Linked DNA regions of Homo sapiens: region 1 is linked to region 2. Evidence: fine-mapped QTL for protein levels in blood plasma. A gene starts in region 2. The other region holds a variant in brackets. All regions are shown on one strand. Distances are between the middles of the regions.

Region 1 (16,347 bases), 16 kb after region 2:
CTTCAATTAAAAATATTAATTGTTCTAATTTTTCTTCTTTTGATGAGTTTTTGTCTTGCTTTGAGCACTTATGAAGGTGAACAAGATTAGATTTGATAATATCTTTGAGTTATTTTATTATCATTAATAAAATTGCTACTGGCCAAAAAAAATTATAAACATCGGCCACGCGCGGTGGCTCACGCCTGTAATCCCAGCACTTTGGGAGGCCGAGGCAGGCGGATCACGAGGTCAGGAGATCAAGACCATCCTGGCTAACACGGTGAAACCCCATCTCTACTAAAAATACAAAAAATTAACCAGGCGTTGTGGCGGGCGCCTGTAGTCCCAGCTACTCGGGAGGCTGAGGCAGGAGAATGGCATGAACCCGGGAGGTGGAGTTTGCAGTGACCCGAGATCGCACCACTGCACTCCAGCCTGGGTGATACAGCGAGACCCCATCTCAAAAAAATAAAATAAAATAAAAAATAAAAAAAATTATAAATGTCAGTCTACCAAAATAGATTAAAAGTGTAGGTGGGAATTAAATGGGGATAAACACTCAATAAATGTTAGCTATATATGAATATTGCCAATACTGAAAAGATTCCATTGTTCAAAAAAGTTTGAGAAGCAATGGGTTAAACAAAATGGAACCTGCTCTGCAGAATCTGTGTGTTCCTTTACATCATACTCTCCATGGTAGAGTGTAGGGGATGGGCGCCATGTCTCCCTAGTACGTTTGACCTTGGGATTCTTTGTCTGTGAACATCTTTGGGTTCTAGTGTTCAGCAGCACTTAGGGAGGCACTGAATTCAGTGTACCTTTGGTCTAGCCTCAGCCCTGATTCTGTTCTGCGGTGGGCCCTGGCCTTCAAGAGAACAGATATCTAAAAGTTGAAAGAAAAGATCGGCCGGGCGCGGTGGCTCACGCCTGTAATCCCAGCACTTTGGGAGGCCAAGGCGGGTGGATCACAAGGTCAGGAGATCGAGACCATCCTGGCTAACACGGTGAAACCCCGTCTCTACTAAAAATACAAAAAATTAGCCGGGCGTGGTGGCGGGTGCCTGTAGTCCCAGCTACTCGGGAGGCTGAGGCAGGAGAATGGCGTGAACCCGGGAGGCAGAGCTTGCAGTGAGCCGAGATTGCGCCACTGCACTCCAGCCTGGGTGACAGAGTGAGACTCCGTCTCAAAAAAAAAAAAAAAAAAAAAAAGAAAAAAGAAAAGATCAACACATCCTGTTGTGTTATTCTGAAAGGAAAGCTGTCTTAAGAGGATCAATTGGTTTTAGAAAAAACACAATAGAATCACAAATAATCCAGAGGAGAAATAAAATGTGGAAGGTGGAGGTGACCTCCAGAAAATCCAGGACAGCTGCTGAAGGCACCCTCTGATGAGCTCGGTTACTCAGAAGAGTGAGGATGTGTTGAAGGTATCTGCTGTATGGAGTGGCAGGATGATGTCTGTGATTGAGAAATATAATCCCGGCCAGGCGAGGTGGCTCATGCCTGTAATCCCAGCACTTTGGGAGGCCGAAGCGGGTGGATCCCCTGAGGTCAGGAGTTTGAGACAGGAGTTTGAGGTCAGGAGTTTGCCAACATGGCAAAACCCCGTCTCTACTAAAAAATACAAAAAAAATCAGCTGGGCATGGTGGTGCGTGCCTGTAATTGCAGCTACTTGGGAGGTTGAGGCAGGAGAATAGCTTGAACCCAGGAGGCAGAGGTTGCAGTGAGCCGAGACCGCGCCACTGCACTCCAGCCTGGGCAACAGAGTGAGACCCCATCTCAAAAACAACCCAAAAAACCAAAAAACAAACAAACAAAAAGAAATATAATCCCAGTAGCCCCAGCTGAGCTGGAGGATGGAGACCACTTGGTAGACACTTGTGGATTATTTCCTAGGCTAAATGCAAAAGCTACTGCTGAATAAGGGACATTTTTTTCCAGTCCCAGGCCAGTAGCGACATAGATTTCAGAGTGATCTCTGTGAGATCCTGAAGATCCTGACTGCAGAAAGTAGTGAATTGTCTTCTCTCACCCAGTTTTGTGACATTCCCTTTTCATGCCATTAGGATCTGGCCCCTTCACCGATGTTCGTGCAGCTGTTTACCAACCGCAGCCTCACCCCCAGCCTCCTCCCTATGGCCACTGTGTCACAGACAGTGGTGTGGTCTACTCTGTGGGGATGCAGTGGCTGAAGACACAAGGAAATAAGCAAATGCTTTGCACGTGCCTGGGCAACGGAGTCAGCTGCCAAGAGACAGGTATGCATTATCTTTTTGAAGAATAGGACTGATGACTTTATTATTTAGTTTTTGAAGGACAATACATTTTCAATGTGAAACAATAAAACAAACAAGAAGCCTGTAATCTTACCACCCTGTGATAACAATTAGGGTTGGCATTTGAAATAGTTTCTTCCAATCTTTTTAATTTATGTATTTTCTTTCTGGTCATGGATATCATGGGTAAAAATTTTATTGTATTTATCTGTCTAAAGTGTTGTTACAAGAGAGCTACTTTCTGAATAATCATCAATGTTTTATATTCTAAATCTCAAATTTCAGCAGCTTTGTGATGTAAACATCTTCCAATAACCTAATATATGTATTCTGCACTACAAACATGGTAGTCACTATGGCAATAACAATTGCTACACAATTCTCCCCCAGAATAGTCTCATATATTAATTTTATGGCATAGATATAGTCATAAATATTATCCCAACATCCTTAAGCAGCATCCTTAATTGACCTGTATAAATATAGCTTTACAAATAGAGAAACTGAGGCATGGCAGCAGAAGTGGTCATGAAGGACATCAGCAGAAGAACTCAGGTGTCGTTCTATCCACAGTAGACATGGATTCCTGAGTAATGCATTTTGACTGAAATTAACGAGATGATCATCTATACTCATAGCTTCTTCCTTTGAGGGCACAAGCTCAGTATCTCATTGAAGCCATAAATAAGCAGCTGCTGGTGGGAGATAAAGCATCTCTGTTTACTGACACTCTTTTGATTATGATTGTAGCTGTAACCCAGACTTACGGTGGCAACTCAAATGGAGAGCCATGTGTCTTACCATTCACCTACAATGGCAGGACGTTCTACTCCTGCACCACAGAAGGGCGACAGGACGGACATCTTTGGTGCAGCACAACTTCGAATTATGAGCAGGACCAGAAATACTCTTTCTGCACAGACCACACTGGTGAGTGTCCCAAGGGGGAGCCACAGAAGTGAGAAAAACTCACTTTCATGCCCTAGTTTTATTTGCCAGCATTCTAGCCATTTATTTTGAACCCGCCCAAGAAGCATCGCTTTTGTTCAGTTTGGACTCAAGAGATCGCAGCGCTCACGTAACAGCTGAGGATTCTTCCATCTTCCCCAGTACTGTTGGGAAATGACACCAAGGGAGTAGCCTTCCAGTTCATTTGATTTAACACATTGGGATTATGATGTGATTAAAGATACTTGTATTTTGGAATCAGTAGATGATCCCACAGGGCTGAGGAATACAAAGGATGAATGTTTTAGTGCCTTAGCTTATTTTCCAGTTAAAACAATGTTTTATTCAAAGCTATCATTTAATCTTTTGTGGGGGGGGTGCTGGGGAAATGACAGTGAAAGTGGGATTTAAACCTGTTTTGAAGGTGTGAAGGTAAATATGCTAAGAAGCTTAGAACTATATTATCAGACATTTTTTATTCTGAGATAGACTGTCTGTGAATGAGCTGCAGAAACCTGGCTCTCTCAGACCAGTAATTCTGTGTACATTGGAAAGCTCAGCGGTAATCTTTTCCTTCTTTGTTGTGTATTGTTCCTGGCAGTTTTGGTTCAGACTCGAGGAGGAAATTCCAATGGTGCCTTGTGCCACTTCCCCTTCCTATACAACAACCACAATTACACTGATTGCACTTCTGAGGGCAGAAGAGACAACATGAAGTGGTGTGGGACCACACAGAACTATGATGCCGACCAGAAGTTTGGGTTCTGCCCCATGGCTGGTAAGATGAAGCCCTTGTGGGTTGTCTTGTTTGACAACAATTTAGGGAGTAGAGACTAAAGACTAGTGTCCAGTTTACTCCCATTTCATTCATTAACACAATTTTGAGACAACAGAAAACTTCATGTGAAGTGTGTTTGTGTGTGTGTGTGTGTGTGTGTGTGTGTGTGATGTTACATCATATACATAAGGATTGGGAAGAATAATTAGATAATTATTTATATAATTTTTAAACCTCATTGACATGATTTAATGTCAAAAATATAATTACTTATTTGTAAGTCTGGAAATATGAATTTGCACAGGTTTGTCTTTGTAAAGAGCACACAACTGAGTAGCTTACAACATTTAATATATGTATGACGGCTTTAGTCACAGAGCTACAATATTGACACATGGTTGTGGTTTGATGGGCATAAGCTCTATCACTTATTAATAAGTGCCAAAGTGACTAAAACTCAATGTTTTCTAACAGGTAGGGAATCTCACTCTTTTTTTAAAGGTCCCCAGTTTGTATAGATGGCGAACAAATGGAAACGAATACCTTTTACTTGTTTTCAGATTTCAAGAACCCCATAGATTCCCTTTAATTTTCCAGTTGTAGAAACAAGAGCCTGGGCGGTAGGCACTGTCAAGTGTGACTATGAGACAAAGAAATTGCTTATACTTTTATTTCTTTCAACAAAAGAAGATGCTGAGTTTAGAAGAAAAAACCCACTTTTGCTTGTAATTCTATATCCAAACCCATAGTTTTTATTTGATCCAGAATAAACTGGAACTGGGAAAAGTTATGAAGCTGTAGTTAAATCCAGGCTTCTAGAACAGCAAGAACCCTTTGTGTGGATGTGTAGATATTATCTTAGTTTAACATCCCCTAACCCTTCCTGTAACTATTTTCTATGACACGTTTGGACTACGTTTTCTGCCTCCAGGGCTCAAAAATTCTACCCCTTCACCTGACAGCACTTAGATGTCTTTGATGCACACAAAGCTTCTTCCCAAGTGAGAATTCTTAGGATGACCAAACTGAACTGATCCTTTTGCACACATACATGTTTAGACCTGGTGATCATTTATCAAGTGCATTTCTTATCCATTTCCAAACAGCCCACGAGGAAATCTGCACAACCAATGAAGGGGTCATGTACCGCATTGGAGATCAGTGGGATAAGCAGCATGACATGGGTCACATGATGAGGTGCACGTGTGTTGGGAATGGTCGTGGGGAATGGACATGCATTGCCTACTCGCAGCTTCGAGGTATGCTGGCTGATTAACAAAAATATTTGAGATGGCAAAAGGTACAGAAAGGGACACTTTTTTTTATGAAAACTTGCACTATGCCAAAAGCAGGGGAAGAAATATGGAATGCCACGTCATTCATTAGTCTACTGTGCATGGTAAGATAAGCCTGAAAGGCTTAGCAGGCAGCCTGCTAAGACAAGCGGCATAGCAATGCTAATGTTCTGAAACACTCCTAGCATGTAAGTACTTAGGCTGAGCCAAAAAGATGGCTTCAAAAGTAAGAATGAAACATTTGATCCATTCAGCTTTAGGCTATGCCACTGGATTCATGTCTAGAAAAGATAGGATAATTTCTGTAAAGAAATGAAGACCTTGCTATTCTAAAATCAGATCCTTACAGATCCAGATTTCAGGAAACAAATACATAGGGGACTAACTTTCCTTGTTCAGATTAGTTTTTCTCCTTTGCACCCAGCTATATAATATGAGGAAGTATTGACTTTTTAAAAGTGTTTTAGTTTTCCATTTCTTTGATATGAAAAGTAATATTTCGGGAGAACCCTGAGCTATTAATAATCTATGTGGCTAGTGCGTAGATATTGGTCTGAATTTGTTCTCCTTTTGTGGTGTCCAGTGGGTAACACCATCCGGGAGTAATAATTACATGTGGTGTTGCAGAACTGAAAGAGACCTTAATAACACATAGAGACCTCACTCTATATAGATCAAGGAGCTGAGACCCAAAAAGGAAAAAGTAATTTTCTCAGGATCTCTCAAAGAGTGAGCAACAGAGTTGGCCTAATTTATTTTAGCGTTGTGAATACTGTTGACATTTTATTTCCCAAATCTAAGTATCTCCTCCCCTTCCCCCTATTCCAGAGACCAGACCACCACATCATGCTGGGTGTTAGATAAATATGTTTAATCTTCTTCTTATTTATCCTAACAAGCAGATATTTAAAGGAAATTATCAACTAAGCAAGAAATTTTCAGAAAGTAAGACATGTATTTGTTCAAATACTGGCTTCTCACAGGAAAGTGTATTTTACCACATTCTTTACTTGAGCATACTGTAACCTCTGCAAAAGTTACACATTTTGGGAAGAAAAAAATTTTTTTGGCAAAAATTGTATTACTGACCAAACTTTGAAAAAAATGTTATTCTATGCTTGTAGAAAAGTTATTTTAGTGGAAGGTGTTGATAATTAAGTGGAAGTAGTTGTATGCTTTGAGAAGCATACCTTTTTTCTTTCATCAATGGAACTTTAAAAAGTTTCTCACTCACCCACCTGTTTCCTAAACAGATCAGTGCATTGTTGATGACATCACTTACAATGTGAACGACACATTCCACAAGCGTCATGAAGAGGGGCACATGCTGAACTGTACATGCTTCGGTCAGGGTCGGGGCAGGTGGAAGTGTGATCCCGTCGGTGAGTAGCCCTATTTCCCTAGATGAGTTTGCACAGGGGGAATGGTTAGCAAGTTTCAGATAAGAAAAGCTATGTGAAATCACATGACTGAAGTTGGCTCCAGACTTTGATCAGTTGCTTGCAAAGAACTTTGCAAAGTCTTCTCTCTAATACTGGACCAAAATATCTCGATATTGGTAGTCGTCTGGTTTTTGCTGAATTTGGTGACAAATTTAGGCTTATTTTAATTGAATGGAATTTATTCTTGGGTTTAGAATCATAAAGATAATCCATGCTATTAAAAGTATTCTTTCCTTTTTTTTTTGTTTGTTTTTGTTTTTGTTTTTGTTTTTTTGAGAGAGAGTTTCGCTCTTGTTGCCCAGGCTGGAGTGTATGGCACAATCTCGGCTCACTGCAACCTCTGCTTCCTGGGTTCAAGCAATTCTGCTGCCTCAGCCTCCTGAGTAGCTGGGATTACAGGCATGCGCCACCAGGCCCAGCTAATTTTGTATCTTTAGTAGAGATGGGGTTTCTCCATGTGGGTCAGGCTGGTCTCAAACTCACTTCCTTACCAGCTGTGTAACAGCATGAGCAAAGGGTGTAAATATCACCCACCAAAACACTCTAGGTTTTTTTTTGGCCGCCCTTCAAAATAGAACTAAGCAAATAGTGAAGGCTGAGCCTTAAAAGAGCTGTGTTACCAGCACTACAAAGTTTAAGGTGATCCATTACTATTTCTTTACCAAAAGAGACAGGTTGCTCACTGAGAAAACAAACTGATAACATCCGTTTGTTTGACGTGAGATTACCAGAACTGAGAGAGAAGCCTGAGAGGTTTTCTTAGAAGCTGCTCAGCAGGTATACTCGTAAAGTCTAGTTCATTCATTTAAATGTCAAACAGTTTCTTTAAATTTTGAAGAAGTAAGGAAAATGAAATTATTGCAGATTTTTTTCTTGCTATTTAAATGTTAAGCCAGTTATATTAATATGGGTAAAAATAATAACTAATATTTAAAATTAATGTGTAGATTATCAATATACACTGAAATCTAAATCTTTACATTTTTATTTAGAAATATTACCTTTTAGAAAACTAAATATTCCTCCTAATAGGTACTTTGGTTTTTTTTTTACTACAAACTGTCCTGTAAGGTAAAGAATGTGAACAAAATATTTTTTTAACTGCATATATTTGTAAGAACAATTGCAAATTTCTATTTAAGCTAAATGTATGCTCTAGCACCCTGAAATTAAATTCGTAGTTATAAGTCTTCAAGGCTGTTTATCTTTTCCTTCCATGTATTTTAGACCAATGCCAGGATTCAGAGACTGGGACGTTTTATCAAATTGGAGATTCATGGGAGAAGTATGTGCATGGTGTCAGATACCAGTGCTACTGCTATGGCC[G/A]TGGCATTGGGGAGTGGCATTGCCAACCTTTACAGACCTATCCAAGTAAGTAGCTCTATTACTGCAAGTTGAGAACTGCCAATTGGGTTATAACAACAGGGCAGTGATTATTAATGCTCTCATGCCTAAGTTGGGGGTCTCCCCTCTTTCCCACCCTTTTCTCTTGTTATTATCTAATAATCAATTGAATTTTTGATTAAAATAATTTTTCTCTCTTCCTCTATCAAGTAAAAGGTAGAGAAGGCTATGAAAATGTGCCTGTTTATAATTTTACTTCTTAACTCTGTAAAATATTCTGTTAGGTTAAGACACTCTGGCTAATTTCATCTTATATCCATACATGGAAATAAAAACCACCAAGTGAGTTATGCTGGGAGTAAAGGTTTGGGGCTTTATATTATGATTCTTAACAGAGAAGCTGCATAGAGAGATGGCATGAAATGCAGCATAAGGTACGTGTTCATTCAACATGTCATCTAAGCTCCCTTTGCATCAAACTTTTCATTTGTTTGATCAGTTGCCACCAGGAACACAGTATGTTGGGCCAAGGGTTGAGTAACTTGGTCAACTCTCTGCCCACACAGTTCAAACACTCTCAAATGTTTATTGCTGGGTTTTTCCAGGTCACAAAGACATCATGCCTAGCTGTAGGTGTAATTAGTTCATTTGGGGGGAAAATTGCATTTAAATATTCACTGAGTGATTATAATAAAACATGTTAATAAAACATGAAAGGCTAATTAAAAGGCATCAGTTATTTGAGCAACTGCTGAGGTGCAAAGTCTCCAAAGTCTTCACTAACGTTTGACTGAAAATATGGCCTACATTCAGAAACAAAAGAGTTTCAGGGTGTCAGAATCTGCATGCGACAGAAATTAAGATTAACTCTGTGATAAAAGATTCACTGTGACAGAGAACAAGCTATGGGAACAACTTGGCCAAAGGTAGTGTTAGCCAAGCCTCATTCCTCCATTTCCTCATCTGTAATATGGGAAGATTGTAGCTGATTACCTTTAATGTTCCATCCTAAATACTAAACACCCAGATGCACCTTTTCTAGGAACTTGGAAGATTCTGCTTTTCCCAACCCTCAGACACTGTCAGTGCTGGGGAAGGTGACTTCACTTTTGAAGGCTTATAGCACAGATTGACCAACCTCCTAAATTGTATTTCTTGGAGGATTTAGGTGTAGGAATCACTTAATTTTTTGTAACTTAATATATATTTAAATCTGATTGTGGAAGTACTATAAGTATATGAATGGTTTGTTTGTTTATATGATGCAAATGATACTTAAATGGTAGAAACTTCTAAAAAAATGCTCTGTGGTTTCTATATTTATGATTGTTATTGGTGTTGCAATTTGCTGAAAATGATTTCCTTCTGAATGATTGAGAGAGATCTTCGTCTCTCTCAACATAAGGCTGTCCACATAGCTGCTTGCTGGAAGCATTTAGGTGGACATGTTGGAGATAAAATCTGGAAAGGAAGGAATCCTTGAGTATTGGAGTATTACATGTTGACCTTACTCCTACTCTTTAAAAAGGAGAACAGCAAGATCCCACTGAGCATAGAGGTGATTTCGGAGGGAAGAGATTGGAATTTGACCTCAGATATGCTCTTTGGTGCTTATCTGTATGTCTGGTTTGCTCCGTGGCCTAGCACGTAGGGCTTTAAGAGTGTGGTGAGAATAAGGGAACAGCAGATTACCAACAGATTGTCTCTGAGTCCTGCCTTGTTTGTTCCTCCTACAGAGAACTTGGTAGAGTTGTTCAAACTAGCAAAAGATAAGAGGCATTTGGTTTGTCAATAAGCAACTAGAAAAGCACAGATCTCAGCAAAATAAATAGAGAAAAAAAGGACTGAGTCAAAAAATCATAAATGTTTAACTTCTCCAAGGACACTACTATTGGAAATTATTCATTTAGACTTTATTTGAAACTAATTTTAAAAGTGTAGACATTGTACTATCTCCTTTTTTTGGTATCATCTCAACTATTTTATTGTTAGTTTATTCATATTGAATAAGAGAGGGAGTAAAGATTTCACAATGGCGATAGCTAGTATATGCCAATTAAGTTAATTTAAAAAGTTATACCAACTACCAGTAGCGAAAAAGGACTGTCAAAAGTTTAAATCTAAATAATGTAAAAGATGTCATAATTTTTAACTTTTCTGTCTTTAAAGGATACATAGTATAAGCTAGAGTAATTATACGTAGTATAAGCTAGAATATAGGAATTTAATTGATCTAAGAAATAACTGACACAAAGTCTCTTTACTTCCTGAACAAAAACATGCTAAATTCCATGCTGTTCAGTCCATTTCCTTTAAAGGTGGGCTATGCCACAGGGCTAGATTTTAAAACGTGGAATTTCACACCAGTGCTCGAAATCTTATGAAAGCAAAAGGGACCTCTGTAGTTGTACTCCACTTTGGCTTGAGTAAAAACCACTGCTGTACCCTTTTTCTTTCCTTTCCCTGCCCATTTTTATCCTCCTCCTTGTGTCCTTGTGGACATAGAAATATGATTAGGCTTAGAGGTGAACAGTAAAGGTCATTTATGTTATCTTTTCAAAACTTAATAGACATTTATCCATCATAAGCTTGTCCCCCCTCAAAATCATGATTGACAAGACTAAATAAAGTGTATATCAGGTGTCTCTTTATGGAGGAAATTGTAGTAGGATTTATTTAAAGGATCAATATTTAAATAGCCCTATGCCAATTATCATAAATAATTAAGGACATGATATTCCTAGCTTTCCTGATTTACATGGAAGTACGTTAAATAGTCACATCTCCAAAATTTTTCTTGAATAGTTGTCTTTAAAAATGTGTTTACATTTGTAAGGATCTTCATAAACAGAAGGGGTAATTCAAAGATAGGCATGGAATTGACTTATGCCAATTGATTAAAACAAACATCCTGTGTGTTCTGTGAAATACATACAACTTTAAAATGAAAAACTCATAATTTTATGCATGAATTTTGGTGTTCATGTGGCTTGGAAATATGTGCATTAAATGGAATTAAGATTCAAAGTATTTGCTAATCTTCAACCAACTTTGAATTGTTACTGGTGTGGAAGTGAGCATATTGTTTTAGAATTTCTGAATCTACATGGATATCCAAGTTATATATTTTTTCTGCTACAGAAAGCTTTGTTTTCCAAGAGAATTTAATGGCTTAGATAATAAAGTTTGAAAATCAATGTATTTTTTTTCCTAGAAGCTTTCAGAAAACTTAAATCTGTTAATAATCTGGTGAAGTGCTTTATTACACATACAAAATTTTGCTCTGTTTGACAGAGTGTCAGTTAGAAATTCTTGAAAAGGTTACTATAAGACACAATTTTTATTTCTAGTAATTTAAACATTGACTGACATCATAAAGATAGTGTTTTAAGAAAAGATAGTTTTCTGTTCTGCAAGCATAAATTTTCTAGCTATTTCATTATTATCTTAAATGGAGTTAACACTACTTAGAAATTGATGCTACTTCCCTTATTTTCCTTTTATTTTAAACAAAAGAACCAAAACCATACTTTAAATTTTGTTGATAACAGTGATATACATCAAGGTGTAGAAATACTGAATTTAGTATACACTTCATAAAGTCATTTCTGTTGACAACTGATTTTGGAAAAAAAATAAATTTAATCACTTAATAATTTGATGGATCAATGGTGTGATTTGGGAGTAAACTTCTTGAATAAAAATAAAACTTGATGTTTTTTCCAAACTGATAGACTGCTTAGACTGATGAGAAATAAAACTAGGTCTTTAATTATTACCTTTGCTATTTGTCTAAGATTCTACCCCCATTTAGAAATGTGTTTGTTTTACATCATCTCATATGGCCTTTGGAATGTTGTTTCCTTCTTAGGTAGTAGATTCATTCTTGATGAAAACCTTCCAAAATTAGAATTTGCTTTAAAAGAGGCTCAATACAATAAGTAAATGAAGTCTGTGTTCTGTATTACATTATTTTTGTAGGATCGTTTCACAATTTTCTCACAATTCTTACTTTGATAGTAGAGAAAATAAAAGCAAGCCAAGAGACTTTTTTTTAAAAATATATTTTATTTGCTATAAACAACTATGATTTGCATTTCTCATGTGAAGAATAATAATTATCGGCTAAAAATGGATTTGCTGCATTGATTTTCAACGTAAATATTTAAAAGATTAATGCCAGATAATTTTATTATACTCACATTTAACGACAAGCAAAGCTGTTTATAATGATGACTGTCCATGTACACAGTTTTAAGTTGAAGTGAGTGAATATTCAAGATAATTAAATGCTACATTTTCATTTTCAGGCTCAAGTGGTCCTGTCGAAGTATTTATCACTGAGACTCCGAGTCAGCCCAACTCCCACCCCATCCAGTGGAATGCACCACAGCCATCTCACATTTCCAAGTACATTCTCAGGTGGAGACCTGTGAGTATCCCACCCAGAAACCTTGGATACTGAGTCTCCTAATCTTATCAATTCTGATGGTTTCTTTTTTTCCCAGCTTTTGAGCCAACAACTCTGATTAACTATTCCTATAGCATTTACTATATTTGTTTAGTGAACAAACAATATGTGGTCAATTAAATTGACTTGTAGACTGAGGGGATTTTGGTTTTGGTTTTGGGTTTTGTTTTTTTGCGGTGGGGGGGCTGGTATTTGGAAGAATTTAGCTCTTTATGTTACAGAAATCTTTTTTGCAAGGACTTAGAAATGATAATGCTTAAGATTGTTCTTGCCCAATGTGGGAAGAGAATCTAAGGTTTTTATATGTCTTGCAACCTCATCAAAGGAAAATTACTGGCATCATTTTCATAATTTGAAAAAAAAAGCCAAATTAATATATTTCTTTTTTGATTCACTTTTTAAGTGATCATTTTTAAAACTTTACTTTTGACCCACTGAATTTATTTAGATAGAAGGAAAAGAGATGATGGGAGGGAAGTTTAGATAAAGGATGGAAGTTGGTTTTATTTAAACAATAGCCCTGTGATTTCCTAATGAGAAGTGACTAGAAATTGAAGAAACCAAATAAGGAGGATATTGGTCAATTTAGCTTTAGTTTCTCTTACTCTCTCAAGCCTGCCCTGTTTAACTCCAAAGTTCATGGCTCATAATTTGAGAAACACTGTTTTAAACACAGGAGAAAAAAATGTCCATTTTAAATCATAGCTATTGAATTCTACAATTACAAAGAAACAAACAAACAAAATTTGACCAACCCAGGCGGTTAAATTTAAACTCTTCAGGAAAAATTTAAGCTGTTAAAATTATTCTTTTTCTAAATTTCTAAAGTGGAGGGACAGAATTTTTCAGATTTAAAAGGGCCTCCTAGGTGCCCAGAAAATTAGTGGAAAGAACCACGTCTAGACGCATCTTTGATGTGTCAGAGTTCCAAGGATAAAAAGAAACTTTTAAAGTCTTCTATACTCAGCCAGGTTATCAATCAAATATGAGGGCAAAATAATATTTTCAGACAGATTTTAGGCAGTTTATCTTCCATATATCCTTTTCTTTAAGGGTATTTGTAGATACACTCCAGAAAAACAAGAGTGAAATATGAAGGAAGTTGTGGGGTCCAGCAAACAGTGCTTCCAAATCAGACCCCTGATAGAGGTGGAAAACTTTGCAATGCAACAACTGCGTAGCTGGCTTAGAGGACAGCCAATACAGATGGAACAGAAAGATGAGGATGGGATTGAGGGATCAGGGATTGAGGTCTCCAAGAATAAAAAGGGACTTCATGGAAAAAGTAGGCTTGTGGATAATTAATCACAGGGGCAAATAATGCAGTTAAAATAACAACATGACAATCAGGTGGAGGAATGTATAATAAACCCAAATGTGGCTGGGTAGAGTGGCTCACACCTGTAATCCCAGCACTTTGGGAGGCCAAGCCGGGCAGATTACCTGAGGTCAGGAGTTCGAGACCAGCTTGGCCAACATGGCGAAACCCCGTCTCTACTAAAAATACAAAAATTAGCCAGGCTTGGGGGCGCACGCCTGTAGTCCCAGCTCCTCAGGAGCTGAGGTAGGAGAATCACTTGAACCCAGGAGGCAAAGGTTGCAGGGAGTTGAGCCAAGATCGCGCCATTGCACCCTAGCCTGGGCAACAGAGCGAGATTCTGTTTCAAAAAACCCCCAAGTGTATTATAAGGCAATAATTCCTATACGAAGCAAACTAAAATGCAGCAATATTAAGGTATAAAAACAAAGAGGAATAATTCCATTGAACCTTGATTCTGGAAACTTTGATCCACCCAGCAGTCATGATGTTAGACTCATTGAAAAGAATGTATTTCTAATGCATGATGCGATCGGTCTATAGATGTGTCATGGAAACTTGGTTGCAACTTCAAGACAAAATAAAAAGTAAACATTTACATGAAAAATGGTGGATATGGAAGGTGGAGAAGAGAGGAGATAACAGCTTTATCTTTCAAAATAGAGAATTGAGAGATGGTACCAAAAGCTGATGAAGTAAAAAAAAAAAAAAAAAAAAAAGATACTTAATATAATACTTTAAATTACAAATATAAACACAAGAAGAACAAATATAATGATACAAATGTCAGACACTGGGAATGTCCAAGATTCTGGAAGGAAAGGGTGGTATTATTGAGCTAAATCCTCAACTTTGTCTGGGCACAGTGGCTAAAAATTAGCCGGGCATGGTAGCATGCACCTGTAGTCCCAGCTACTTGGGAGGCTGAGGCGGAAGGATCGCTTGAGCTTGAGAGGCGGAAGTTGCAGTGAGCCAAGATGGCACTACTGCACTCCAGCCTGGGAGACAGAGAAAGACCCTGTGTCAACATAAATAAATATATAAATAAATCATCAAGTCTCATATTAAAGACTCTGTAAATATGACTTATTGTTGACAAATGAAACAAATAGAGGTGTAAGCATGTTGTCTACATGGAGGCAAGACCAGAATAATAGAAAATGGAAACAGATTCCCTTAAAGAGGGGAATCGTGTCTTTCTCATTGGCTCAATGTAGTCTCCGTAGAGTCTAGAATGCTTCAGCACCTGGCACACTGCTTAACAAATGGTGAATGAAAAAAAAAAAAAGAAAAGTCATTCTTTTTCTTCTTTCACCCTATGTCCATAATCTGGCCATTTGCAGAACTTGATGTCCAGTGATCGAAATCAACAGCATCAGTGCATCCAATATCTTCTAGTCTCTCATCTTCTTATTACATCATTAATTTTATTTACTTTAAAATTAAGGATATCCAAAGTATTATGTGAGACCATTGCAATGGGAGACTTAAAAGTGGTATAAAATGTACTTTGGGCCAGGCGCAGTGGCTCACGCCTGTAATCCCAGCACTTTGGGAGGCCAAGGTGGGCGGATCACGAGGTCAAGAGATCGAGAGCATCCTGGCCAACATGGTGAAACCCCGTCTCTATTAAAAATACAAAAAAATTAGCTGGGCATGGTGGCGCATACCTGTAATCCCAGCTACTCGGGAAGCTGAGGCAGGAGAATCGCTTGAAACCAGAAGGCGGAGGTTGCAGTGAGCCAGGATCACGCCACTGCACTCCAGCCTGGGCAACAAGAGCGAAACTCCATCTCAAAAAAAAAAAAAAAAAAGTACATTGAATTGGAAAGTCTTCAAAAAGCAGCAGTGATGAATTTTTTGAGATTTTTAACAATTACAAAAATTCAGGGTTTTTTCTAATGGATGCCACCTGAGACTTTATTTTCTGTTATTTTCTTGTAATAACTAACCAAACAAGCTCATGTTGAAAAATGATTACTAAATTTGAGCTAATTGCAATGACTGGTTTCAAAATTTTCCACAGTGTATTTGAGTTAAAATTTCACTGTGAAGAGTACTACGATCACTCTCGCTTATTCCAAAAATATAAATGGACACTTGAGTATTTGAATTATTGAGGAAATGGTTGACTGGGTAATTTTTAAAAATCACTGGGCACAAAAAATATATTTTGACTTATATTAGTTTAGAGTATTTACACTTGAAAGAGTCTCATCTTTTCTGAAGGGTGTTTCTTTCATACACATTTTATTGCACTGAGTTTTGTGACCCATGGCATATTAATGAAGCTGAACAGGATGTGAAATATAAACTGGAAGCAAAAGATTAAATAAACCAAAATTGCATTTTTTCTGTAGTCTTGTCCAAAATTGGGTAACCACTTCTGATGGGGTAGCTCATATCCAAGAATGAGTCACAAAACCAGACTCGTTGAACCTGGTATATGATGAGTCACAAAGCAACATTCTGCCTTTGTTTTTTCAGGA
Region 2 (8,808 bases):
GATGAAATGAAAGTTCGAGCTCTCCAGAGTCAATGGCCTCCTCTCTAGCAGAACTGGAAGAAATTAATAACAGGATAAAAGCCAAAGGTTTCAGGAAAAACAGCCCATCAATTAAATGTTACACCTAAATGTAACATTTGAAATGTAACATCTAAATGTGACATATTTAAATGTAACCTTTAACATTTAACATTTCAATGTTAAATGTTAAATTTTTGAGACAGGATCTTGCTCTGTCATCTAGGCTGGGTCTGGAGTGCAGTGGTGTGATCACAGCTCCCTGCAGCTTTGATCTCTCGATCTTCTGGGCTCCAGTCATCCCCCAGGACTCATGTCAGACTCCTGAATAGCTGGGACGAGAGGTGCCTGTCACCATATCTGGTTATTATTATCATTATTATTAAGAGTGTCTCACTATATTGCCCAGGCTGGACTTGAACTCCTGGGCTTAAGTGACCCTTCCACACTGGCCTCCCAAAGTGCTGGGATTACAGGAATGAATCACCACACCTAGCCTGTTTTTATTTCAGTCCTTCTAAATGACTGGATCTGATCAATTATTTTTTGTGCTTAATCAAATGTCTCCATTGCTAATCTTCAAAACAAATGAAATCAATTTAATTCAGATTTCCATAATTGCTCATGCTCCTCCTTAACCTTCTGGAATAATAAAATTTCCCAATACCATTGCCCCCCGCCACCCACACCCCCCTAGTTCCCGAAAATATATGTGCTTCTTTTTGTTACAAAAAGTTTAAATTGCCTGAGGCTCTGGGAAAATTCTATCACTATGGCAATTCCAAGAAGAAACAAGGCACAGTCCTAAATGAAGATTTGTTCTGTCTCTACCACATATATGCCTTCACACAAATAGTAGGTTTCAGAAGGAGTTACTGGTGTAGAAGAAATCCACTACTATATTCAAGGCAAACTTCCTCTCAGAAAAATGAAGAAATGAGGACGCCTTGTGTATGTTGCTGCTACCTGAGAGCAAGTCTTTGAAACCAAAATCAGGAGATGGTTAAGAGTAAAAAAGAACAAATACTAATTTTTAAAATCAACTTTTGAAAAAAACAACTTTATTGAAGCATAATTTACATACCGTAAAATTCACTCATTTTGTGTATAATCCCCAGAATTTTGAAGCTTTTACCAAATTGTACAGTCATCACTGCAATGTAGTTTTAGAACACAGATTTCCATCACCTCAATAAGATTCCCTGTGCCCTTTTACAGTTAATTCCTGTTCCCAGCCCATAAACTTGGGTACCCATGAATCTACTTTCTGTCTCTATTGATTTCCCTTTTTTTGTCACATTTCTCTCTCTGAATACAGTTTTAGAAAGAAAGAAGGAAAGAAGGAAAAAGAAAGAAAGAAAGAAAGAAAGAAAGAAAGAAAGAAAGAAAGAAAAAGAAAGAAAGAAAGAAATCCAAGAGTATTTCCTACCAATAGGAGAATACAATTTACTGAGGAAGAACCCACCTGGATAAAATAGAATTCTTAAGGAAGTCCAACGATCCTGGACACCACACACGTTGGTTGAATTAGAGTCAGAGTGGTCTTTAAGATTTAATTATCTCTCCAATTAGAGATAACAGACTTAGAGTTACAAGGGACCTTGATAATTAAAGAATACTGTAGTAAGCCCTGTTATCTTAACTAAGAAACGCCTCTGTTTCTAAAGTTTAAAAAAAAAGGCAAAAAAAAAAAAAACCTTTCAAGTAAAAGAGTAAACTCCCAAGCATTCCTATAAAAATCAGTCAGATGTTATTTTTTTTCTTATGAGACAGAGATATCCTGTTTCCTTAAATAAATTAGATATCTATGGGATTGAAATATAAAAGTTTCTTCCAAAATGTAAGGTGGGCTTTCCACTTCAAGCTCCACTATGCATATGATTCTAGTGTATTTTCAGTGCAGTAAATATATCAAACTATCATGGTTTTGGTTGACCAAATACTTTTCTAATCACTTATTTCCTTCCCCCAGAATCAATGAATTTTAAGAAAGCTTTAGCTACAGGTTTATCTTGCTTACATCCGGATTTCCAGGTATCCTTCCCTCTGGAAGAAACACTCGGCTTCCCAGAAATTTACCAAGCATTTTACAAGGAGCTCTTTTATATTTGAAAAGAGAAAACTGTTTTGTCAAGTGATGAGAAATTCCAAAAAAATCCTCTAACCCAGACAGGATTCTAAATTTGGGGAAATCCATGGCACTCTTTCAATTTGGAGTGTGGGTCACAAAGATTCCTCAAGAGGTTTTTTTACACTATTTGTAGGAAACTGATATTTGCTGGGTGTTTTGCTTTGTTTTGGTTTGGTTTTAAATCCTTGCATGAATAAAAACAAATGCTAATTTTGTGTCTTTAATGTGTCAGGCATTTTATAGAACACAGAGTTCTAATTACTCCTGTGGCAATTACTGAAGGTGAAACTTTTGGAGAAAATAGGTACCTTGCCGAAATAAATATATTTTATTAGTAGCTTCTTGTGTTTTAAAGCAAATGGAACCTCTGAACTCCTAACACAAGGAGAAGGCAAAGCATTCAGTTCGGGTCTCTCTGGATCTACTGTGGAAGTGGTGGACTCCTCCTTCTGAAGATCTTTAAAAGCAATTGTGCCTGTGTTTATCTGACAAAAAGGACTGATGTGATGTGTTGCTAAATGAGAGACTTTTCAGATTCCCTTTCCACTCTGAGTTTAGAGTTCAAGGCGGGGGAATCTTAAAGGAGAACTTTCCACACTCTTGGAGTAAATAACAATTGAAATATAAAAAATCTGGCGGCGGGGGATGGAGGGGGCATTCTGTAATGGAACTTGTCAGCAAAAAGAAAATGGCAAATAAATGTGAGAAAGGGGCCGAAGGAGGGCAAGACAGTACATAGGGTGCCCCCCACCCACCCGGCTTTTAATGATTCAAGCAAAAAAATCTCTGCTTTGTGTGTAACTGGCACGGTGAACGTGGGAAAGGACACGAAGACCTTTCTCTCCCCACAGCTGGTCCAACTTTCCAATTTTCAGGTTGTTCACAGTGATTTCACTTTCAGTGGAAACGGGCGTCCCATCCCCAGGAAAGGAAGGCTTTCCTGCATGTGTAAAAAAGTAAACTGTTACTTTGTCCTTGCAAAAGAAAACTTCATTCTCTGAACTTCCCCGGGATCTGCAAAGCGCCCCGCGGAACTCCCGGTACTTAGTAGAAGCTCATTAAAGGTCTCTGTTCCCCTTTGCTCCCCGTTCGCCCGCTGGCCCTTTCTCAGAGCCAGACAGGCACAGCGCTGAGAAGGGAAGAAGTCCGAACAGGGAGCTGTGAAGACAAAATAAGGGAGTCCCGAGTCAGTACCCTTTAGTCCAAAGAAAGGGAGCGGGATGGGGGGAAAGGCAGCCCCGCCCTGGGACTGAAAAGTCTGGATTCTTAACAGCTGCAAGGTCGTGGATATTTTATGGGTTTTCTTCCTCACAAAATACACTCCTATAAGCAGAGATTCCCCCCCTCCACCCCGAAGAGAGGTGACGCAATGTCCTCAAACACTACCACCACCCCCAATAAAAAAGAAAAGGGAAGGGGGAGCGTCTTGCAACCCCTTCGCTTCACACAAGTCCAGCCACTCCCTTTCCTCCCAGCCGCTTCCCATCCCTTCCCCCATCCCCTAAAAAGTTTGATGACCGCAAAGGAAACCGAAAAAAAGTTGTCTTGCCCCAGTCCTGGCGGGCCATCAGCATCTCTTTTGTTCGCTGCGAACCCACAGTCCCCCGTGACGTCACCCGGAGCCCGGGCCAATCGGCGCGCGGTCGGCTGCGGCGGCCGGCGGGCGGGCGGGCGGGTGGGGTGGGGCGGGGCGGGGACAGCCCGGCGGGTCTCTCCTCCCCCGCGCCCCGGGCCTCCAGAGGGGCGGGAGGGGACCGTCCCATATAAGCCCCGGCTCCCGGCGCTCGGACGCCCGCGCCGGCTGTGCTGCACAGGGGGAGGAGAGGGAACCCCAGGCGCGAGCGGGAAGAGGGGACCTGCAGCCACAACTTCTCTGGTCCTCTGCATCCCTTCTGTCCCTCCACCCGTCCCCTTCCCCACCCTCTGGCCCCCACCTTCTTGGAGGCGACAACCCCCGGGAGGCATTAGAAGGGATTTTTCCCGCAGGTTGCGAAGGGAAGCAAACTTGGTGGCAACTTGCCTCCCGGTGCGGGCGTCTCTCCCCCACCGTCTCAACATGCTTAGGGGTCCGGGGCCCGGGCTGCTGCTGCTGGCCGTCCAGTGCCTGGGGACAGCGGTGCCCTCCACGGGAGCCTCGAAGAGCAAGAGGCAGGCTCAGCAAATGGTTCAGCCCCAGTCCCCGGTGGCTGTCAGTCAAAGCAAGCGTGAGTACTGACCGCGGGCTGAAACAGGCTGCCTCAGGGATGGGACCCTAAAGCCGACCAAAGTTGGGGCTGAAGTTTTGTGCGCGCGCGTGTGTGCGAGTGTGTGCGCGCTTTACTGAGAGAAACCAGCTGTGCACACAAAAGGACCGAGTTTTGAGCACGCTGGTTCTGAGGGCCTGGGATGATAAGACCGTGCATTGGAGGACGAGGACTCTGCGACTTTCCCGTGTTCTAATAAATTCTGCACGTTCAGATTGTCCTTCTAGGAATTAACCAAAACTTGCCTTTAAAGAGAAAAATGATGCATGTCTATAAATTTTCCGTCTGGGATTAGTGTGGTCCTTACTGCTACTTATTTCCTTCTGTTAAATAATTGGTCAAATATTTTCAACATGGGGGTGGAAAGGGGGTATTGAAATAGCTGTCTTGTTTCTAACTAACTTGGAAGAGATGTAATTGGTTCAGACCTCTTTAGGGCCGCTCAGGATACTTCACCAAGAACAGAGGTTGGAATTCTTTCCGTTTTTCAAAGACACACCCTCCTTTTGCTTTGAGAAAGCTGCTTAAAGTTGTCCTTTTTGACTATTACTCCAAAAGAATATTTAAGTTCCTTGCATGTTTTAAAAATGTGACTTCAATTGTCTGCCTTCCAAAATGTTTCCAACTTTTTTATGTAGACCCCTGGCCAGATGGAAATGACATCATTGTATATAACTTTTAGCAAAGTTAAAAGGAAAAAAATATGTACGTCAATATTCACATGAAGAAAATTCCATAATTTTGGGAAAAGGAGAAATGCAAATGTAACGTTTTCCTTCAATTATTTGCAGCCGGTTGTTATGACAATGGAAAACACTATCAGATAAATCAACAGTGGGAGCGGACCTACCTAGGCAATGCGTTGGTTTGTACTTGTTATGGAGGAAGCCGAGGTTTTAACTGCGAGAGTAAACCTGAAGGTAAGTGACAACAAGCCCCATAGTTAGTATCTTTTAATACATGAAGTGGTAATTGTTAAACTTTGCATTAGTAAGTAAAAATACATACACCATTTTTCTAATAGAATTACCTGTCATTTCCTCTTAAGTTTAAAAACTGCTTATATTTGCTTTTCACATGCTTTTACCTTTAAAACAAAGAAACGAATCTTTCCCAAATTAGTTCCTAGAGTCTTCTTTTTGCTTTACTCTCCCAAAGTTTTTGATGAGAAAAATGAAAGATTTTGTGTGTCCTCCGACAAAAAAAATTGCTTATAAAATTTTAATTTATTAGAAAGCAGTCTCAAATCTTAAACTGTTAGTTTATGAGCCAGAAAACACTTTGGGGACTTACATCGTAAAATGATTTGTCAGCGGCAGTTAACACAAAACCATTAGCCACTTCAAAGTTCTCATTCCTTTAGGACCAATGATATTTTTCTCATAAATTATAGCAACTCTGTCAGAGAAGCACTGATCAGGGGAAAATGGAAATCATAGGATTAACAACTGTCAAGGCCTTGTGGGAGGTGGGGATCTTCGAATTGTTTGTTTGTTTTTGTTTTGTTTTGTTTTTGAGACAGAGTCTTGCTCTGTCACCAGGCTGGAGTGCAGTAGCACTATCTCAGCTCACTGCAACCTCTGCCTCCAGGGTTCAAGCAATTCTCCTGCCTCAGCCTCCTGAGTAGCTGGGACTACAGGCACATGCCACCACACCCAGCTAATTTTCATATTTTTAGTAGAGACGGGGTTTCACCGTATTGGTCAGGGTGGTCTCGAATTCCTGACCTCAGGTGATCCACCCGCCTCAGCCTCCCAAAGTGCTGGGATTACAGGCGTGAGCCACTGTGCCCGGCCAATCGTTTGCTTTTTATGTGAACCTTGCTTTGACTTTCTGAGTCAGAGATTGGAATGTGAAACCCTTCACAAATCTAGCTCTGTCATAAGTTAGTACTTTATATGGCCTTTTCCTAAGAGCCTGAGATTTTTCTACAATATGAATAATTTACAGAAAATTTGACAATATGTCAAGGTCAAAAACCATGGCCTTATTAGAGCTTAGGATAAAAATCTGTATCTCTCACTTCATTTTATTCTTTGAGGTGTACCATGTTACTTGTGGAATAGAGAAGTGGGTTTTCCTTTAGAGGGGATTAGTGAACTAGAAAAGCTTGTACCTAAGTGAGGCTCACATGGACTTTCCTTTTCCCCTCAGCTGAAGAGACTTGCTTTGACAAGTACACTGGGAACACTTACCGAGTGGGTGACACTTATGAGCGTCCTAAAGACTCCATGATCTGGGACTGTACCTGCATCGGGGCTGGGCGAGGGAGAATAAGCTGTACCATCGCAAGTAAGGAAGAGATTGTGTAAAATGATGCCAAAATATCAAATATGAATTTCTCTGTTACCATCACTGTCATTTTCTGTTATCCATGACTGGATATTCCGAACTTTGAGGTTTGCCCCTGGTGACCAGGTACTCTTAAGTGGTCACCCAACTGGTTCCTGTGTTTCTTAAAGACGGGTATGAGCACAGATGGAATCAGTGTTTGATGTGTGTGCGTTTATGAGTGTGTGTGCATTTATGAGTGTGTGTGTTTCTGTACATAGTAGAACCAAGAGACCTCTTGGGTTCCATTTCAGTAAGACATGCTTAGGGGAGTTGCCCATTTTAAATCACCTGGATATCTTCAAGCTAGACAAATCATGAGACTTTTCTGCAGTGACTGGGAAGGTGTTCATGAAGAGTGAACCAGCCATGTGTTGTCTGGTCTTCATGTTTGCAATGCAGAGACCTCTTGCACCTCACAGAAACAGTCTGGTTTCTTGGTGACCAGTAGGTTATACCCAGGAAGCAGATGTCACTATTCCTAGGGATAATACAAAATTATTAACCCAATAGAGTTTGCTAAGGAACTTTGGGAACCGGGCTGATTCTCAACTCTAGTTTAGCTAAGGCACTCTTTCCAGTATGATTCACTGGGTTACCAATAGATTCTATTAAGATAGTATTTAAGTTTTTTAATCCATTCTTTAAATATAAGTCGTCTTAAAGACTTCTATTCAAAAGAACAAGTCCCGTGTGAATAGGCCCAATCAACTTTCCCCATATTTCATGTTAGGGTTTATCCAAGTTCACAGGCAAATCGCAAGAGGCAAGGGTCCATAGTGTTTACAATCTAGTTCAGCATTTGAATGTGCCATTGGGCTTAACAACTTAGAAAACTACCAGGATTTCCACACTTTATATGCATATGTCTGTTTGCTTTCCACCAAAATGACATTTCTATCCTAGGGTAAAATACAGGCTCTCCATGCTCCCAAAAGCTGGAGTGCTGTGCCTGATGTGGCCTTTTCACTGAATTAGTCTCAGTCTTAGCCTGCTGTGTATGAGTGAAGACCAAGCCTCCCAGCCTTTCTTTTCTGCTTAGGACCCAATTTCCTGTGATCTCTCTGGGAAAGCAGGATTCATGACCTCTTCCTTGCCATCCAGATTTCTCTGTGGTTTTCCATTGTGTTCTAAGCAAGACACTTAACTGAATTGACTCCAAGTGACCAGACCTGTTAACGTTTCCCCTGTCTCTGATGGGAAAGCTGTTGTCTGTGTCTCTACTTTAGCCAACCTAAGTACCTACCATGGGTGGAATATGAGACCAAAAAAAAAAATCTGTTCTGCCCTCTCCTAACATTTTCGTTGTATCTTCAACAGACCGCTGCCATGAAGGGGGTCAGTCCTACAAGATTGGTGACACCTGGAGGAGACCACATGAGACTGGTGGTTACATGTTAGAGTGTGTGTGTCTTGGTAATGGAAAAGGAGAATGGACCTGCAAGCCCATAGGTGTGTGAGTCTTAGGGCTGAGCAAGAGCTGGGATGCTTAGTTCTAATGTGGGGTTGGACCAGAATCACATCTACATAGGTCATAGACCTGAATTCCAGTGAAAACCAATAAAGAAATGGGAATTTTGTTTGAAATAATGAATTATTATATAATCCATAGTCTTCTTACAGGAGTTAGATCAAAAAGTACTGACTACACATAGAAGTCTTAACTTTGCTTCAAAAGCATAAGGTAGAATTGAAAGATTTAGAATGGAGTCATTTCTTTTACCTAATAGCTGATCTCAGATTCCTCCTTCGTCAAGATATAATTTATTTAAAAGAAAAAAAAATGACACTTTGGACACATTTCTATATGGAATGTCCTGGACCGAAACATGAAATAGTGTGTGCTTGTCACACTCTGCTCATTTCTTTTCAAATTAAAAGTTGTTGAGCTTCTTTGGATCTCAATCCTCAGTTGAATTTTGTAAGTACAAGCCTGAAAGTTTCTGGCTATAAATTTTACTCTGTTTACTTGTCTTCTAATTTAGAGGTTTTTGTCTTGTTTTGTATTGTTTTGCTTTCCAATATTTAAAAATAGCTTTCTTTGTCATTGTATTTAGGCCACTCAAAATTCATAATTGGTCATTT

Which allele goes with the higher level. Alleles are on the strand shown, and positions count from the first base shown. The strength of an association depends on the size of the effect and on how common the allele is.
In carriers of allele A in region 1, the plasma level of the protein whose gene starts at base 3,940 in region 2 tends to be lower than with G alone (weak association).

What was found. PIP is the chance, under the fine-mapping model, that this variant and not a neighbour inherited with it causes the effect. Protein levels are from antibody-based Olink assays in UK Biobank. Linkage for the fine-mapping came from a reference panel and not from the study's own genotypes, which makes the PIPs less certain.
Region 1: its variant is fine-mapped to the plasma level of the FN1 protein (UK Biobank, PIP above 0.99). The variant lies in the coding sequence of FN1. If it changes the protein, the assay may bind it differently, which can mimic a change of level.

What each region holds. Positions count from the first base shown.
Region 1 is chr2:215,410,991-215,427,337 of GRCh38, reverse strand. FN1 (fibronectin 1) reads left to right here. Exons shown (of 46, transcript NM_212482.4): 7 at 2,053-2,244; 8 at 3,013-3,192; 9 at 3,812-3,988; 10 at 5,095-5,247; 11 at 6,537-6,665; 12 at 7,953-8,096; 13 at 12,380-12,501. Among named protein-coding and RNA genes, the nearest start is that of FN1-DT, 17 kb to the left of the region's middle. RefSeq lists an enhancer at 2,817-4,016 and silencers at 6,498-6,792, 16,158-16,347. The variant G/A (reference allele first, on the strand shown) is at 8,052.
Region 2 is chr2:215,431,200-215,440,007 of GRCh38, reverse strand. FN1 (fibronectin 1) reads left to right here and starts at 3,940. Exons shown (of 46, transcript NM_212482.4): 1 at 3,940-4,353; 2 at 5,184-5,312; 3 at 6,547-6,684; 4 at 8,044-8,175. The coding sequence starts at 4,206. It overlaps FN1-DT (FN1 divergent transcript), which reads right to left and starts at 4,317. Exons shown (of 2, transcript NR_187198.1): 1 at 3,699-4,317; 2 at 1,063-3,089. RefSeq lists silencers at 3,757-3,846, 3,857-3,916 and an enhancer at 5,429-6,628.